Linked DNA regions of Homo sapiens: region 2 is linked to region 1. Evidence: fine-mapped expression QTL. A gene starts in region 1. The other region holds a variant in brackets. All regions are shown on one strand. Distances are from middle to middle.

Region 1 (9,256 bases):
CTTCTCTAGACTTGATGATGAAGCACCAGTTACAGTTCTCCCAGCTCGCCTTCCATTGCCCGCACCATGACATACAGCTCGGCCAGACCCACCACAGAGGCGACGATCAATGCAGCTAGCACCCGCTGGAGATGGGGAGAACCAGGCTTAAGGGATGCAGGCCAACAACCAGCTCTGTACCCCAGCAACTTTAATGAGGATGGAGAGCCCCCCAACCACCCTCTAAGTTGGGGGAGGGGAAGAAAAGAGAATGTGGCTTCTCCTGGGGTTATTACCTAACCTCCCGTGACTGCTGGAAAGCTCTAATGCTCCCCTTATTAATGGCATAAATATCTGTTCAATACCTAACCTGTGCAAGGCACTTTCACATACGTCCTCCCTTACCCACTAACACCCCCACCAGGGGCACCCTGCCCTGCCCAGTGCCTACTCACCGAGGCCATTTCTGTGAAGATATATTGGCTTCCAAGGTAAGTGCAGACGAAGGCAGCAACCACCGTGACAATGAAATTGAAGATGGTGATGACCAGAGCCTTCAATGATCTCACTTTGGGGAGGAGCCAGAGAGGGCACCTTTAGTTCAACATTCTCTAGGAGGTGCTCTTATCTCATGGCTCCCCCACCAACTGGGTTTCAGTCAAACAACAAGCCTGAGTGTCATGACCCATCTCAGGAAAAGGTTTTAGAAGCCTGATCTCCTAGTACCTCACCTTGCTTTCCCAGGTCGCTGAGAGTCCCACCATGTCTTGTATCCTGGGAAAAAGAAAAAGAAGATGATTCAGAATAGAAGCAGCTCAGAGAGCATCCATTGACAGTCTGGCTCAGCCCTCTCTATTCCCCAACATATTAACTCTGCCCTCCCCATGGATTCTTTTGTCTGGAACCATTTTGACTCTTTTCTGGACTACAGAGCAGGCATTTCGGAGAGAGGACATAGGCTGCCAGTACCCATCTACTCTCCTGTTCCAGGGTAGGAGCATGCCATAGAGTAGTAGGGAGCCCTGTCAGAAGAAATGCTCGAATGGCTGGGCACAGTGGCTCACCTTGTAATCCCAGCACTTTGGGAGGCCGAGGCAGGAGGATCACCTTGAGGCTGGGAGTTCAAGACCAGCCTGGCCAACGTGGTCTCTACTAAAAATACAAAAAATTAGCCTGGCGTGGTGGTGCATGCCTGTAATCCCAGCTACTTGGGAGGCTGAGGCATAAGAATCACTTAAACCTGGAAGGCGGAGGCCGCAGTGAGCAGAGATCCTGCCACTGCCCTCCAGCCTGGGTGACAGAGTGAGACTCCATCTCAAAAAAAAAAAAGAAGAAGAAAAAAAGCCTCCAAGATTCATTCCCACTTATTTATTTATTTATTTATTTATTTTGAGATGGAGTCTTGCTCTTGTTGCTCAGGCTGGAGTGCAATGGTGCAGTGTTGGCTCACAGCAGCCTCTGCCTCCGCCTCCTGGGTTCAAGTGATTCTCCTGCCTCAGCCTCTCGAGTAGCTGGGATTACAGGTGCCCGCCACCACGCCAGGCTAAGTTTTGTATTTTTTGTAAAGACGGGGTTTCACCATGTTGGCCAGGCTGGTCACGAACTCCCGACCTCAAGTGATCCACCTACCTCAGCCTCCCAAAGTGCTAGGATTACAGGCATGAGCGCCGTGCCCGGCTAACTCCCACTTCTATGACGTTTAAAACTTGGTCACCATCTCAGCCCAGAGTCTCAGTGAATGAGATGGGAACTGTGTTGTTTGTATGCAGACTTCCTATGGTCCCTGAACAGTATAGAAACCAAGTTTCCATGTTTTTTCTAAACTCTGTATCTTCTTCCACTGCAGGGCCCTACTCTGAGGGGCTACCTAGACCACGTACTGAAGAGCATGTCCTTACCTGACAAGTGACGTTGCGGGTGATCCGTTTATATTCCTCATTGGCCAGCTGTATCTTAATCTTCTCCAGCCGGGCAACTAGTTCTGGGTTCTGAAGCAGAAAAATCAAATGAGAAGAATGATATTCCCAGCTTGTTAGAAAGCACATCACAATCATTGGTTCCAGGGGTAAAGCACTGCTAAAGGTATCAGGAGACCCACATACTAGTCGTAACTCCAGTGCTTTGAAACTGTTTTTTTTTTTTTTGATCTCAATTTTCCAAACAGCTGATGGGGAGGACAATATCTGGCTCCCCCAGATCCCAAAGATTTCAAAAACAATTTTTCAAGCCTAAAAGTTGATTTATAAGTTCAGTGTATCATGGATAAGCCCAACTCAGTCAATAACCACTCTCACAAACATATCCCTTACATACCCGTGGAGGCTTCACAACCTCTGGGAGATAGATTTCACTGCCTTCTAGGAGCTCATGGAGGTATAGTTTGGAATCTGAGAAGAAAAGGTTTCACAAACACAATGATCCACGAGCTGAGGTTGAAGGGTTAAGATCAAGAGGGGTGTAGCCCTTCTTTCTACCAAAATAAAACAGGGCCATCTCTACATTAATCCATTTCCAGGATCATTTTCAATTGAAAAGAATTTTGGATAATTCCATGTAGGTATCTCCCAGTGCTGCGCAGGTGACTTTAGCTGTCAGCTCTCAATTATCCTGCCAGTGTTATAACTAACAAGTAAGCCATTTACTTGTGCCTTTGGGTTAGATCAGTTCTGTGGCCACAACAGCTCTTCCCTAAATAAGTTTAGGTCATAGTGATGCTAAATGCTCAGAGGACACTAATACTAGGCAATCTCTTTCTAAGGTCCTTTCTAGTTCTAATAATTGAGCAGTCTACCCTTTGCACTTCTGGCTGGTCTATGTTACTTCTGGCAAAATACCTTATGTGCTAGTTTGTCCTGTTCCTTCCCTTTACACATAAGGGAACTGAGGCCCAGCGAGGAGAAATGACTCCTTCAAAGGATTAGTGACAGAGCTAGGACTGGAACTCACATGCTACTCTCAGGCCAGATCTTTCAACACAGCTTTTGCCATCCTATATTAAAAAAACAAACAAACAAAACAAAGTATCAGATTTCACCACTCTTGCTTTTGAGGTGGAAAGAAATCCGGATTCCTACAAGCTCACTATGCTAAGCTGATTCCTAAAGTGGAGAAAAAGAAGAGACAAAACCTGTGATATTTGTATTTGGTAAAAACCTAGACTTTCTCAAGGGTGAATTGGGCCTAGGTGTGCCTGGAAGTGAAGAGGGGGCTCTCAAAAGAGCAGAAACTGCACAAGCAAATTTGTCATCCACGAGAAATTCCCATGGGAGTTAAGAAAGTGGGTGGCCCTGGGATTTATGGAGTGACTCTTGACTTGTCTAGATGAGTGCTCCGTAGAAGAAGGGGAATGATGGGAAAAGACCTCAGGAGGGAATCGATCTGGACACAAGGAGGGGACCCCGGACTGGAGACTGGGGCTCACCCCTTTCTCTCAGATGCTGGTGCAGATCCCGGATGAGACGGAAAGAAACCAAGCGTTGGGGGCCACTGGAGCTATCACCGCCCTTGTGCTTCTTCCCCAGCGCGGCCTCAAGCTCGGCCCGCAGCTTTCGGGGTAGCCGCTCTGGCTCCAGCTCCCCGCCGGGGCCCAAAGCACGCACCAATCGCTCGCCCGCAAGCAAAGAGGACGCCATATCTAGCCGGCTCTCCGGTCAGGTGACCCCAACCCGGACTTCCGCCCGCCGCGCGCCGGAAGTAACGCTAAGCGCACCGGAAGTTGCTCTGAGCTCCGGGGTGGGACCAGGCGGGCCAAGAGGGCCGGGACGCCGCGCGGGGCAGTGTGGGACTGGGGCGGAACGCCGCCCGGCCGCGGGTCGGGCTCTGTGTCAGCAGCCGGGCGGGCGCTCGGGCGGGACATGGCAGCCTGTACAGCCCGGCGGGCCCTGGCCGTGGGCAGCCGCTGGTGGTCCCGGTCGCTGACTGGGGCCCGGTGGCCAAGGCCGCTCTGTGCGGCGGCCGGAGCTGGAGCCTTCTCGCCAGCGTCGACCACGACGACGCGGAGGCACCTCTCGTCCCGGTGAGGGACGGAGCCAGGGGGCGCGAGGAACTGGGCCTGGAGCCCAGAGAGCGTGTTCCTAGCCAGTGCGGAGGCCAGGGGCCCGGGCCTGCTGAGGGTGACTGGAGTTTGACCCGGGAGAGGGTCCCGAGCAGGGAGCCGACCTGCGCTGTCTGGGACATGTGCCAGGAGCAGGGAAGCCAGCGCGGCCCAGAGCCCTGGTTGTACAGGGCTGGCCCTGGGGGGGAACAGGTTACCCTCCCCAAGTGAATCCTACTTCCCCGGCTGGGGTCCCCAGCACCGATGTCAGAGGGAAGCTTTTTAATTCAGCCCTAGGGCATTGGCTTGAACCCTCAGCCTTTGGATTTGGTGAAGGTCTGCCTCAGAAAGATGCTAGAGGTGGGAAACGAGACTCTTGGGTGTGGACCCTCGTAGGCCCCAGGTTTCCAAGTGACTTTGGGGAGATCGATTTTCTATCTGTGACTTGGGGAAGGGGGTTTGAGGCCATGGGGATGGTGTGGAAACTGTTTCCACGGATGGGACAGGCGGATCAAATGGGCTGGTGGATCAGTGGGAGGAAGCATAAAGTTCACATCTTCAAAACAGTAAAAACAGCCTTTATTTGAAGGGCCCCTAGAAAGAGCAGCCCTGTTCAGAGTGGTGACTGACATTTTAGTGGCTGATATTAGACACTGAACATTGGGGAGAGATGATAGCTATTTGCAATTTAAGACCCCTGTGAGAATATGAACAAAAACGGTATTGAGAGAGCGATGTGCCGTAGGAAATCTAGAGATGTTTAAGCTTTTCAAGGGCAATGTAAGGGCTACAGGTTAGAGGGGGAGATGGACATGGAATTATAATACAGGACAAATATTTTTTGAGCACCTCTTGTACACTAGGCTCTGAGGGGGCAGTACCAGCTAATCAGACTCAGGCATTGCTCCCAGGGAATTTACAGTATTTAATAAAGATAAGACATGGACACAACTGAAATGTAAAGGGAGCAGGATATTGTTTGATGACTTGTGATATAGAAAATGTAAGAAAAGAAGAAAAAAAGATACTCCCCTTCTAAAAAAATTGAAAAAGTGAGCAAGACAGTTAAAGTGCTGTGGGAGGTCAGGAGGGTGGGTTAGGGAAGAAACAAGGGCAGGGGTACATTTGAGCAGAGTGTGAGGGCATGATATGAAGAATGCCCAGTGAAGAGAGAAGACAGTAGTATGGGAGCGGTCACATCTAACACTGGGAGACTGTGGAGGTTTTCACCAAGGAGGAGGAAAGCCTTTCCTGCTCCAGCTGGTCCCACTACCCCAAACCCTTCTCTGCTGTCATCGCCCTGGCCCCTCAGTATCCTAGGAGCTTTTTCTTATGGATAACTACCATTACCTTCTCAGCTTTTCTGTTGCTTGTTCTTTTCCTTCCTACTCAGAAACCGACCAGAGGGCAAAGTGTTGGAGACAGTTGGTGTGTTTGAGGTGCCAAAACAGAATGGAAAATATGAGACCGGGCAGGTGAGTATTGGGCTGGGTCATCTTTCATTTTCATAGAGTGCTCTGCTTCTGAAAAAAGTCAGATTAGGTCACAGGCCTGCATGGTATGGTGTTCCATTCATTCCACCTTGATGTTTGGTGCCATTCCAGAATCAAATTTGTATTCATTTTTTATTTTATTTATTTATTTTATTTATTTATTTTTTGTGAGACGGAGTTTCAGTCTTGTTGCCCAGGCTGGAGTGCAATGGCATGGTCTCGGCTCACTGCAAGCTCCACCTCCTGGGTTTAAGCAGTTCTCCTACCTCAGCCTCCCTAGTAGCTGGGATTACAAGCATGCGCCACCACACTTGGCTAATTTTGTACTTTTAGTGGAGATGCGGTTTCTCCATGTTGGTCAGGCTGGTCTCGAGCTCCCGACCTCAGGTGATCCACCTGCCTTGGCCTCCCAAAGTCCTGGGATTACTGGCGTGAGCCACCGCACCCAGCCCAGAATCAAATTTTTATAGATAGGGTTTCTGTTCTCCTGGATTTGAATGCACTTAATGTGTCAGTGGGTTCTCTTTCCAAGTTAATGTGGACAGGGATGGTGTGGACTATAGTGAGGTTTAGCCAAGTTGCTGAAGATTTCTCTAACATAGTGGATGGTGGGAAGCCGTGGAGGGAGCTTTCAGAAAAGTATACCTTTGATGCTTTGCCGTAATAAAATTGACTTCAGTGTGGTAAACTCTGGATGTGTGGTTCTTTTTCTATATCAGCTTTGTTCTGGGTCCACTGGGATAGATTTAGGCCCTTCTAGGATATTGTAGGTAAGGAAGACTTTTTGTTTGTTCAACATTTTATTTTTCTGTGTGCCTACAATGGACTAGGCATTGTGCATTAGGGTTAAATCAGAAAGCAAAGTAGACATGATTCCTGCTATTGTGGAGTTTCTAGTCTAGAAAAGAACGATTTGCAAATGGCCAATAGCTGTACATTGTGCTAAGTGGAAGGGAGGTCAGGGAAGGCTTCCTGGAGGCCTAAGCTTTTACCTAAAGGATGAGTAGAGTCAGCCAGGTAAAGAAGAAATAAGAGTGTTCCAGCATTGGTCTGGTTGATCACAGACTTCAAGGGAAGAGGTAGCAAGACCTTGTGCTGGAGTTGCCTCCACCTGTGTTGCTTTGTGGTCTGGGGCCCACCTGGATGGATTTGCTGGACTGCAGACTCACTGAGGCCCCTCTTTCCTTCCAGCTTTTCCTTCATAGCATTTTTGGCTACCGAGGTGTCGTCCTGTTTCCCTGGCAGGCCAGACTGTATGACCGGGATGTGGCTTCTGCAGCTCCAGAAAAGTAAGTTTCCCTGTGGTTGTGCCTCACAGTATCCTCAGGAGGAGATGGCAGACATATGTAATTGGGGTACTAGGGGTGAAGACAGCGTCCTCCTAGGCCTTGGAAACATCCCCAGAGTACTTCTCTGGGACTAAGACCCATGGAGACAAAAGTGCTGAGTGCCAGGGATAGTCTAAGTCAGAGAGTCCCTTTAGGCCTCCTCAGAATGCTTTCCTAAGCCATTCCTAATTTTCATTATGAGTATCCCAGAGGGCATTTGGGGGACAAGTCTTCTTGATTTCTTGATGTTCAGCTGGAGTCTTTCCCTCAATCTCACATCATCCCTAGAATACATTAAAACAGAAAAGGTTCAGCCCCATTAAGTGATCACAGACAGTCCCTGGGATATAAGAAGACAAGAGTACTCTGGGCCCTGGGGACTGAGGTGGCAATTTGATTTTCTCAACATGGCCCCCTTCTTTTAAGAGGTATCCACACGGTCAGATGATGGCTCCATACCATGGTCTTCCATGCTCTATTATTTGCCCCAACTGAGGAGCAGCTGAGCTGAGGTGCTGCAGAGCAGGTGTCCAGCTGGTGCTAAAGCCCCTTTAGATCAGAGACCAGCCTGTTTAGGTGAGGAGGAGTAGGGAGCTGAGTCAGCCACAGCTTCCATTTCTCCTGGGGTGATCTTGGCCTCCTTCTCCCACCCCATAGAGCAGAGAACCCTGCTGGCCATGGCTCCAAGGAGGTGAAAGGCAAAACTCACACTTACTATCAGGTGCTGATTGATGCTCGTGACTGCCCACATATAGTAAGTAAGCAAGATGGCTGGGCTTGGGGGTCCTCTCCATGGAAAGTCCTGCATCCCAATGGGGACAAAGGGAGGGAAGGGGGTCAAACAGAGCCCAGGTCAGTCTTGGTCCCCAAGGCCTTGGACTGCACAGTGGCCAACAAAGCCCTGATTCACGTCTTTTTTTTTTTTTTTGATATGGAGTCTCACTCTGTCGCCAGGCTGGAGTGCAGTGGTGAGATCTCAGCTCACTGCAACCTCTGCCTCCCGGGTTCAAGTGATTCTCCTGCCTCAGCCACCCGAGTAGCTGGGATTACAGGCATCTGCCACCACACCAGCCTAATTTTTGTACTTTTTAGCAGAGACATGGTTTCACCACTGATTCACTTCTTGCCTTAGTCTCAGAGATCTCAGACAGAAGCTGTGACCTTCTTGGCTAACCATGATGACAGTCGGGCCCTCTATGCCATCCCAGGTGAGTAGTTAGCATTTGAATGGTGCCCGTCAAGAAGGAGTCTGGTGTGTCTCAGGGAGAGGATTCTGATGTCCTGTCATCCACTGGGAGGGATTATGATGCTGAGAGGTATGATATCAGGGTTATCCCATACTGGAACAAGGCCAGTTAATGTTTCTTCTCAACCCCATCTCTCTCCTCTCCTGTGAGTTTCACCACTGTCTTTTGCATCTCTGTGCCAGGCTTGGACTATGTCAGCCATGAAGACATCCTCCCCTACACCTCCACTGATCAGGTTCCCATCCAACATGAACTCTTTGAAAGATTTCTTCTGTATGACCAGACAAAAGGTAATCTCTCTCAAGAAGGGGAGGTGGAATGGGAGGGCCTTTTCATCAAAGAATATCATAGAAATAATTCCAGGGCCGGGCACGGTGGCTCACGCCTGTAATCCCAGCACTTTGGGAGGCCCAGGCAGGTGGATCATCTGAGGTCAGGAGTTCAAGACTGGCCTGGCCAACCTGGTGAAACCCTGTCTCTACTAAAAATACAAAAATTAGCTGGGCGTGGTGGTGGGCGCCTGTAATCCCAGCTACCTGGGAGGCTGAGGCAGGAGAATCACTTGAACCCAGGAGGGTGGAGGTTGCAGTGAGCCGAGATTGCACCATTGCATTCCAGCCTGGGCAACAGAGCGAGACTCCATCTCAGGAAAAAAAAAAAAAAAGGCCCGGGTGCTTGTGGCTCACGCCTATAACTCCAGCACTTTGGGAGGCTGACACGGGCAGATCACTAGGTCAAGAGATCAAGACCATCGTGGCCAATGTGGTGAAACCCTGTTTCTACTAAAAATATAAAAATTAGCTGGGTGTGGTGGCGTGCACCTGTAGTCTCAGCTACTTGGGAGGCTGAGGCTGAAGAATTGCTTGAACCCGGGAGGCACAGGTTGTAGTGAGCTGAGATCATGCCACCGCACTCCATCCCGGCAACAGATCAAGACTCCGTCTCCAAAAAAAAAAAAAAAAAAGAAATAATTCCAACGCTCTATTTCCACAACCCTTTTCAACCTCCTGTTAGAGCTGTCATGCCTCATAGGTGTCATACCTGACAGATGACAGATGGCAGTTATTTCCTTACAGATATGGAAACTGAGGATCAGGGATGATGACAAGGGACTCAAGGTTGCTAGTAGCAGAGTGAGGGCTGAAAACCAGGGCTCTTAACTGCCAGTCCGATTGT
Region 2 (9,256 bases), 40 kb after region 1:
TGGGTGACAAAGGACCCTGTTTCTAAAAAAAAGACTGAGAAAATTTTATCAAATGTAAACATTTAAATGGGATCTTTATGATATGATGCTGAGCACCTTTTAAGTGTATTTTGTTAGGGGTGAGCAAGACGGGCTTGTGAGAATGGCACATCCAGGAAGGATAAAGAAGACAACAGCTGTGAAGTCTGGAATGGCTACATGGAGTAGCAGGCTAATTACCAAGTATTAAAAGGTCCTATAACACCAGAGATTGTAAACAGGCAGCCTGTCTGAGTATTGCTGGCCACACAGGTTTCAAAAACCACAGATAGGCCAACACTGTAGTAGATTTTCCTTTCTTCAGGGCAATTAATGGTTACTGCAGAGCTGCGATGACCTCTTCGGTCTTTGGGAAGAGTCTGTACTCTCTGGCCCTGTAGTAGGCTGAATAATGGCCCCCAAAGATAACCACATCCTAATCCCTGGAACCTGTGACTATTACTTTATTTGGCAAAAGGGACTTTGCAGATGTAATTAAGGATTTTGAAATGGGAGATTTTCTGGGTTATCTGGTGGGCCCTGAATGTATGACAAGTGTCTTTATAAAAGCGAAGCAGAGGGAACTCTGACTACAGAAAGGGAGGCAATGTGATGACCCGAAGCAGAGATTGAAGTGACGTGAACACAAGCCAAGGAACATTGGCAGCCACCAGAAAATGGAAGAGGCAAGAACCAGATTCTCCCCTGGAGCCCTCAGAAGGAGTGAGCCCTGCCTTGATTTGAGCACTGTAAGATTTCATTGTGAACTTCTGGCCTCCAGAACTGTAAACAAATAAATCTGTTAAATCACTACATTTGTGGTAACTACAACAGCAATATGAAAACTAACCCACCCTGTATATGTTTGAGCTTATAATTTAACTCAACTCTCTCAACAGTTGAGGAGGATATAGAGCCCTGACCTGCCCAAGTCACCTCCAGTTCTTGGAAGAACCAAGTCCCCAGACTGCAACTTGCTACACGCTACCTACGCTTTTCCCATGCAAAAGGAGGTCAGAGGTCTTCCAGTTGTGTTTGGTTCTAGAAGCAAACAAAAAAGAGTGACTTATGGGAGTGGTAGAACATTCTTGAGCCGTGGCCTTTTTGGGAGAGTTAGGCCCCTTGAAAAGTCGATGGAAGCTATATTCTCCTTGCAGGAAACAAAAGGCACACACACTTGCACCCATTTTTGGGAGTTCATGACCCTCAGGTAAAGAACCCCTCCTCGGCAGATAAAAAGCATTTAAGGAAAAACAGACGCAAAATAAAATCTTCGGGTAGACAAGTCAGTCCTGCCTACAGTTATAGATAAGATGGAGAAACAAAACTGAGGACAGGAATTCCATGGAAGAAGGTCACAGGGTCCAGATACGAGAAAAAAACCTCAACGAACCGGGAAACTAAAACTATAGCTTTGAAGAAAAAAACAAAGCATTAAAGCAGAGTTTGGGGTTGAAAGAATGCTCTCCAACAACCAGGAAATCGGGATTTTCACCTTTATTTTTACTCAGGAGATCATTGTTACTCGAACCCAATATTGAAGAGCCAATCTGAAAAGATGGCAATTTACTCCTGAGCTCTGGAAGTTGCTGGAACCTGATCTCGAAGCAGTGACGATCTGTGAACGCCCCAGCTGCACCAACCAAGGTGCTAAACCTTCAGACAGGTCTATTTCTACTCGGATTTTTTCTTTGGGATCAGACTGGTATTTTAAAGCCCTTCCAAACAAACAAACAAAAAACCAGAAGCTTAAAGCAAACCTAACATGTGACTTTGGACACCACTTCATCCAGACTACTTCCCTCAGACACTGACAACCGGCCAGAGGTGGAATCGCGGGAAACCTTAAACCCAGGGAAGAAGTGACTTTAAAGGAAACAAAGCGTTCGCCCCCGCCGCTTGGGAGAAGGGGCTGGGATAGAGACAAAGCCCGAGGAAAACACCGAACTAAAGTTGGGTTAGGAGCGGGGGAGGCATGGGCAGGACCCGAGAGAGGCAACTGGAACCCAGAGTGCGCGAGCGCGGAGGAGGTGAAGGCCCTGTGGACGCAGCGCCGGGAGAGCCTCAGCGGGCCGGGATAAGAGGGGCGCCCCTCACCTCGACTGGGTAGAGCTCGCGCGGCAGCACCGCCTGCAGGTCCATGAACAGGGTGATGGGGATGTGGCTGAGGAAGTAGAGGCCCAGCAGCCACTCCACGCAGCGCCTGGTTGCCGGAGCCCCCATAGTCTGTCGGTTGGGCCTGGACCCGCTGATGTGAGAAGAGGGGCCAAATCCGCGCGCCTTCCCAGACCCACGCGCCTCGGTCGCCGCCTTGCCCCCGCGAGGGCTAGGCAGACCGCTTCCATTGGCTGGCGAGAAGAGGAGGCTCGTGGACAGGGGGCGGCACTCCCCACAGGGCGCACCCATTGGTCCGTATAAGTATAGCGCGTGGAGAAGGCGTCTCGTAAGCCATTTCCATTGGCCGCCAGGAGCGCCGTGTGGGCGGGGCTTAGTCACGCCGTTCGGCGCGCGGCTACTCAGTGTAGATTGCGGTTGTGAGCGCGAGCCTAGCGTTTCGGTGCTGGCCGCGTGGTATCCTGGTGTCCCGGCAGCTGCCGGCGGCGCTCCCTTCCCTCGTGGCTCCGTTCGCCACTACAACAGCAGTATGAAAACTGCACTGGCCCTTGGGCCTTCTGCAGTAAGTCAGCATTAAAAAAATAAAGCTGACGCTGTGCACGGTGGGTCATGCCTGTAATGTCTGCACTTTGGGAGCCCGAGGCAGGAGGATGGCTTGAGCCCAGAAGACCAGCCTGGGTAACTTAGTAAGACATTATCTCTACAAAAAATAAAAAATTAGCCAGGTGTGGTGGTGTGCACCTGTAGTCCTAGCTAGTTCGTGTACTAGTGACCAGCGCCTGTGCTGGGCCGCGGTACCCCGGTGCAGTGCGGCCGTCACGGAGCAGGGGTCGCAGAGCGGGGCACGAGCGCCGCGGTGCAGGTTCCCGGCCCAGCCGGGGTTGCGGGTCTGGGGAGGCAGCTGGCCGCGGTGAACAAAGAAGCAGAGGGGAGGACTCGAGGGACGTAGGAGGCAGTAAAATGGACAGGAATCCTCACCGGCTGTGGAGCATGAGGGAAGGTCAAGGATTCGTTTACACGTTCAGCAAATACTGATGTTCATCTCCACGCTGGGCGCAGGCCTGTCTCGGGGCAGGATCGCCGAGGCTGCCATTTGCTAAGAGGGGACACAGGGCAAGGGAGTGCGAGGAAGGAATGCAGCTTGGACTACGTGGACCTTGAGTGGGCTGCAGCGTTGGGTGGAGGAGGCAGTTGGGTGAGCCTGTCTGGAGTCGTAAGCTTGTGAGGCATCCGCCTTTGATGGCGAGCAGAGGGCCTGGGAGAGATCCTGGGGGAGCTCCAGCCTCAGGTCATGGGAGGAGGGGACTGAGATAGGAGCGTACTAGCAGGGGGCTATGTCACAGGGAGGGGCAGCCTGTCAACACTGAGTGATGCCCGCCTGTGGCCCTGTGGGGAACAGTTGTGTCGTGGGGGCAGGAGCCAGGGAGTAAGAAAGTGGGGAAATGGAGGCAGGAAGTGTAGACAGCTGGTCACGAAGGGGAGAAGACATGGGGCAGTAGCTGGAGAGAGATGCACTCGAGAGTTTATTTTGCAGGTGAGAAAGACTTGAGCTAGTTTAGTTTTGACAGTGGGAGAGGTTACCCCTACTCGAGAAGAGCAGGAAATGCGGCTCAAAGCCCTGGAGGAGGCGGAGGGAATGGAAGGATTGGGGTGGGTTAGGTGGGTGCACTGCGCTCCGCCCAGCTTCCCCTTCCCTTGGGGCGCT[G/A]TGGGCTAGGACAGAGGGATTATGGCAGTGTTGAAGGCCCAGCTGAGGTGGGGGGCCGCTGACCCGGAGGCCCCAATCTCTTAGGCTGTGTGCTTTGCATTTCTCTAGTGCGGGGTCTACCCAGAAGAAGGCTGTTGGACCCCTACAGAGTTTGGGTTCAGAAAAGCGAAAGGTGGCTTTGAAGAGCTGAAGAAGAGTGATTGAGGTGCAGAAGGTTGCAGTTCAAGCTAGGTAGGGGGAGAGGGAGAGGTGAGGCCAAAGGGGGCTGTAAGACAGGGAGACAGTGGAGGCCTGCTGAGGAACACGTGCCAGCGTGATGGGAGTCACTGGGCCGGAAGGGTGGGAGCTTATGAGGAGGGCGTGCAATACCTGAATTCCTGGGGTCAGGAAGAGGTTCTGCCCGTGGGAGTGTGCGGCTGAAATGGAGTGGAGGGGAAGGTCTTTGGAGATGAGGTCAAGGGAAGGCCACCCAGGGTGGTGGTGGCGAAAATGCCACTGCACACGGGGGAGTAACCAGAAGGAAGGTGAGCATGGGATGAGAGTGGAGGGGAAACTGTGTGGACATGGCCTTGCGGAGGGAGGAGGCCGCTTATCCTGACCTTGAAGGGTGCGAGAAGGTGAATAGCCTGCGCTGGAGAGGGCTGTGGGGAAGCTGAGTCCTCAGCCAAGTGCCAGTTACTGGGGGAGGTAACAGTGGAGGGGTTTGGCTGGAGAGGAGGAGGAGCAGGTTGGAAGGAGACAGTAGGAGAAATGTGGAGGTCTTTGGGTGGGGAGCAGGGGATGAACAGCATGGGTGGCTGAGCATCGTGAGGGCACACAGTTCTGGCGTCCCCCAAGTCTCAGGTCAGCCTTGCCCAGGACCACAGAGCCGGCAGCCACAGGGAGGCAGGGGTGTTCAGGGCTGTTTGTCCTGCTCCGAGGGGGGAGCCGGGCTCCATGGAGAGAACACTCTACCAGGGGCTCAGGAGGGAGGACTCAGAATTAGCTGCTGCTTTTTTTCCAGGAAAAAAAAAAAAAGTCAATGCCTGGGAAACCTTAGGTCACCTGAGGAGAGAGCCCATTTTGTTCACACCATAAATCTTTAAAGGCAGTTTGCTCTTTCTCAGACTCCACTCTGTTCCCAGACTAACTACTCCTGTTAGTCACTTAGTAGCCATCTTGGTTATCAAATTGACCATTGAGTTATCACGGTGCTTGTGTTCAAGTAAGCCTTATGTTATTTAATAGTGGGCCAGGTGTGGTGGCTCATACCTGTAATCACTTTGGGAGGCCGAGGCAGGAGGACCCCTTGAGGCCAGGAGTTTAAGACCAGCCTGGGCAACATAGCAAGACCCCATCTCTTAAAAAAAAATTAGCTGGGCATGGTGGCTTGCCTGTAGTCCCAGCTACTTAGGAGGCTGAGGTGGGAGGATCTCTTGAGCCCAGGAGTTTGAGGCAGCAGTGAGCTGTGATCACCTCACTGCACTCCAGCCTCCACAACAGTGAGACCCCTCTCAAAGGCCCTAAAGTGCAATGGTAGCGATGTGACAATTCGGATATGCCAATGAGAAACCATAAAGTTCCTTTATGTGAAAAGGTGAAGATTTTTGATTTAGGAAATAATGCTGAGGTTGCTAAGATCTAGAGAACAGTAAGATATTTTGAGAGAGAGCACATTCACATACTATTTATTACAGTATATTGTTATACTTGTTCTATTTTATTGTTAATGTCTTACTGTGCTTGATTTATAAATTAAACTTTATCATAGGTTTGTATGTATAGGAAAAAACAATATGGTTCAGTACTACCTATGGTTTCAGGCCTCCACTGGGGGTCTTGGAACATGTTCCCCCACGGATAAGGGGGACTTTTGTATACAGCTCCTCTCTCACTTCTCCAAACCATTCACTTGAATGAGAACATGAAGGCTGGGCGCAATGGTTCACACGTGTAATCCCAGCAGAGGCCAAGGCAGGTGGATTACCTGAGGTCAGGAGTTCCAGACCAGCCTCACCAACATGGTGAAACCCAAACTCTACTAAAAGTACAAAAGTTAGCCAGGCATGGTGGTGCACACCTACAGTCCCCGCTACTCAGGAGACTGAGGCAGGAGAATCACTTGAACCTAGGAGGCAGAGGTTGCAGAGTCATGATAGCACCATTGCACTCCAGCCTGGGCGACAGAACAAAACTCTGTCTCAGAAAAAAAAAAAAGGCTGGGCATGGTGACTCAGGACTGTAATCCCAGCACTTTAGGAGGCTGAGGTGGGTGGATCACCTGAGGTCAGGAGTTCAAGACTGGCCTGGCCAACATGGTGAAAATCCATCTCTACTAAAAATACAAAAATTAGCCAGGCATAGTGGCGTGCACCTGTAGTCCTAGCTACATGGGAAGCTGAGGCAGGAGAATCACTTGAACCTGGGAGGTGGAGGTTGCAATGAGCCAGGATCGCACCACTGCACTCTAGCCTGAGTGACAGAGTGAGACTCCGTCTCAAAAAAAAAAAAAAAAAAATGGAACATGAAGAGCTGGGAGGGCCTTTGTAGATATCTAGGGCCTAACACCTCATGAGGAAACTGAGACTCAGAGAGGTGTTTGTCCGAGGTCACAAAGTGAGTGACAAGGCAGGGACTGGAACCCTGGTATCCTAACGCCCAGCCCCAGGCCAAGTCTTCTATCCCTAGGGCAGAGCAGTGCCTTCCCGCACAGGGTCTTCAGACCAAACCCAGGGCCCAGGAGAGGTCTGGCTAGGTTGGCACACTACACAGCTGGAGAGGCCTGGCAGCACTGCTCCCACCCTCCATCCATTATGGCTTTAAGGATATGGTGGTACCATATCCTTTTAATTTACCTTGGGGTGGGTTAGGTGTGTGCTCTGCGCTCCACCCAGCTTCCCCTTCCCTTAGGAAGTTATAATTAAGTTCCCTGTAGAACTTAATTATAACTGCTTGCTGGAGGGCAATGGGGCCGGAGGAGTGTGGGCTAGGATTTGTCCAGGAAATGTGGTAAGTACAGGTGTCAATGTGACAGTTTCTCAGAAAACATCTCATCCAGCCCTGGCAACATAGTGAGACCCCCATTTCTATAACAAAAATTAGCCGATGTGGTGGTACGCACCTATAGTCCCAGCTACTCAAGAGGCTGAGGTGGGAGGATGGTTTGAACCCAGGAGTGATCACACTACTACACTCCTGCCTGGGTAACAGAGTGAGACCCTGCCTCAAAACAAAAAACCCCAAATGTCACCTAGCCAAATTTGTTACCTATAAAGATTTTCAAGGCCAAGCACTTTCAGTGGATGGTTCCTCTGTCCAAAAACATTCTGTCCAGCTGTTTGAAATTTCTTTAGTAGGGGACCATAGCTCTTAATTTGATGAGGTCAGATAAGTCTTAGAATGCAAATGGCTCTAAGAGAGGTCAACTGAGGAAGACAACAGTGTGGAAAGAATGACCCTGTCCTTATGAGAACAATGTTTAGTGCCTTTAAAAAAGTATTTATATTGTGACAAGACAAACACCATTAGCCTAACAGTGGACCCAATGATGGCAGAAAGCGAATTCTAGCATTGTAACCCCAGCTGAAAGGTACTTGGAGCAGGCCATGCCAAATTGGCCACTTGCCTCTTTGGCAGCAACTGTACAAAGCTCTTTCTTCACCTCTCAACTTTTGCTTCACTTTTCTGTCTACTTAAAATGCACCCACCCTTCTCACCCCACCCCTGCTTACCTCCCCCATCTCTATGTATTTTACTATTTGGCTGAAGGCCACCCTACCCCCGCCCCCAATTGCCTCTATTTGGTGGCACTGTTACATCCTCTGAACCTGTTTCCGAAAGTTTGTCCCTTTCCACTGAGCAACACTGATTGGAGCCCATGTCTCTGGACATATTTCCCACTAGATCGTAGATTCCTTGAAAAGTATAAAAACTGTTTATATTTTTCACTGTTTTAAAACTTACCCTTTTAAAAATTAGGAGCCACAACACCAAGTCAAAAAGAATAAGAAATAAACACATCATCAAAATTATTTATTATACAAGAAAAATTATCAATACATCTTTCAGTTCTTTAAAATGGTTATCAGCAATTCTAAGTCCTGTCTTCATTAATAATTCACTGTATGACCTCATGCAAATCATGTCATATTCCTCATTCTTTGTACCTTCATTTGTAAAATGAACTTGAACTAGACACTCTTTCAGGCCATTTCTTGGTCTAAAATCCCACAAATTTGCAGATTTAAGCTGAATTAAAGTTACCCTATTAAAAAGGCTAATTGATTTCTTTAACGTTAATGCAAAAACATAAACACCATCAACTCCCACAAAAGTAAACAATCACAGTATCACAACAATCATAGTAATCCCTGGTAGTGAAGCACAAAACTTTTTCCTCCTACTGCTAAAATAAATGTAGTCTCATCACAATGACACGAACACCAAGTAAAAGCAAACAAAATACTAGGTGTCACTGGGGTTAGTGATGACTTTTTAATTGGAAAACCAAAGGCACACCCATGAAAGAAGGAATTGGTAAGTTAGACTTTATTAAAATTTAAAACTTCTACTCTGCAAAAGACACTGTCAAAGGGAAGACAAGACACTTTGGCAGTTTCTTACGAAGTTAAACCTATTTTTACCGTTCAATCCAGCAATCACACTCCTTAGTATTTAACTAAAGGAGCTGAAAATTTATGTCTACCCAAAAACCAAAACACCAATATTTATAGCATTCTTTATTCATAATTGCCAAAACTTGGCAGCAATTCAGGTGTCCTTTGGTAGGTGAATAGATAAGCAAACTGTGATATGCCAGACAGTGGAGTATTATTTATGGCTAAAAAGAAATGAGCTATCAAGCCAGGAGAGACATGGAGGAATCTTGGATACATATTCAGCAGTATGTGAAAGAAGCCAATCTGAAAAGGCTACATAACGATTGGAAATATATGGCATCCTAGAAAAGGCAAAACTACGGAAACAGTAAAAAGATCAGTACTTGCCAGGAATTTGAAGGGAAGAAAGTAAAGGGATGAACAGGTGACACTGGGGATTTTTTGAGCAGTGAAATTATTCTCTATGATACTATAATGATAGATAAATGTCACTATACATTTTCCAAAATGCATAGAACTACACCAGAAGTGGACCTTTCATCTATTGTAACAAATGTATTATAACAAATGTGTAGGAGGCCATGTCTTTACTTTCAGCTCAAATTTGCTGTGAACCTAAAGCTACTTGAAAAAAATAAAGTCTATTTATATAAAAGTAAACAAAACAAAAGTTAATAATTACAATAAACTCATATGCAATATTTCTGAAGCACATCTTCCAAACAGCATGTGTATTTTAAAATTTTAAAACTTTACTAAAAAACTGGTAACAAATTGAAAACAATGGTTACCTCTAAGAAATGAAACAGAGGAGAAAGGA

The links. PIP is the estimated chance that this variant, and not a neighbour inherited with it, causes the effect. A credible set is the group of variants that fine-mapping cannot tell apart.
Region 2: its variant is the best candidate, but not a certain one, in a credible set for the expression of POLDIP2 in blood mononuclear cells (TOPMed, PIP 0.74).

The regions. Positions count from the first base shown.
Region 1 is chr17:28,352,026-28,361,281 of GRCh38, reverse strand. It overlaps POLDIP2 (DNA polymerase delta interacting protein 2), which reads left to right and starts at 3,755. Exons shown (of 11, transcript NM_015584.5): 1 at 3,755-3,994; 2 at 5,406-5,487; 3 at 6,697-6,794; 4 at 7,491-7,587; 5 at 7,966-8,041; 6 at 8,263-8,370. The coding sequence starts at 3,834. VMA12 (vacuolar ATPase assembly factor VMA12) reads right to left here and starts at 3,635. Exons shown (of 6, transcript NM_152464.3): 1 at 3,401-3,635; 2 at 2,293-2,366; 3 at 1,878-1,967; 4 at 711-753; 5 at 435-547; 6 at 1-125. The coding sequence starts at 3,611. The coding sequence ends at 30. MIR4723 (microRNA 4723) reads right to left here and starts at 628; the gene lies at 548-628. RefSeq lists enhancers at 3,378-3,477, 3,590-4,355 and a silencer at 3,668-4,057.
Region 2 is chr17:28,312,225-28,321,480 of GRCh38, reverse strand. TMEM97 (transmembrane protein 97) reads right to left here and starts at 2,281. Exons shown (of 3, transcript NM_014573.3): 1 at 2,116-2,281. The coding sequence starts at 2,241. RefSeq lists enhancers at 2,158-2,217, 2,698-2,957, 3,177-4,002. The variant G/A (reference allele first, on the strand shown) is at 3,839.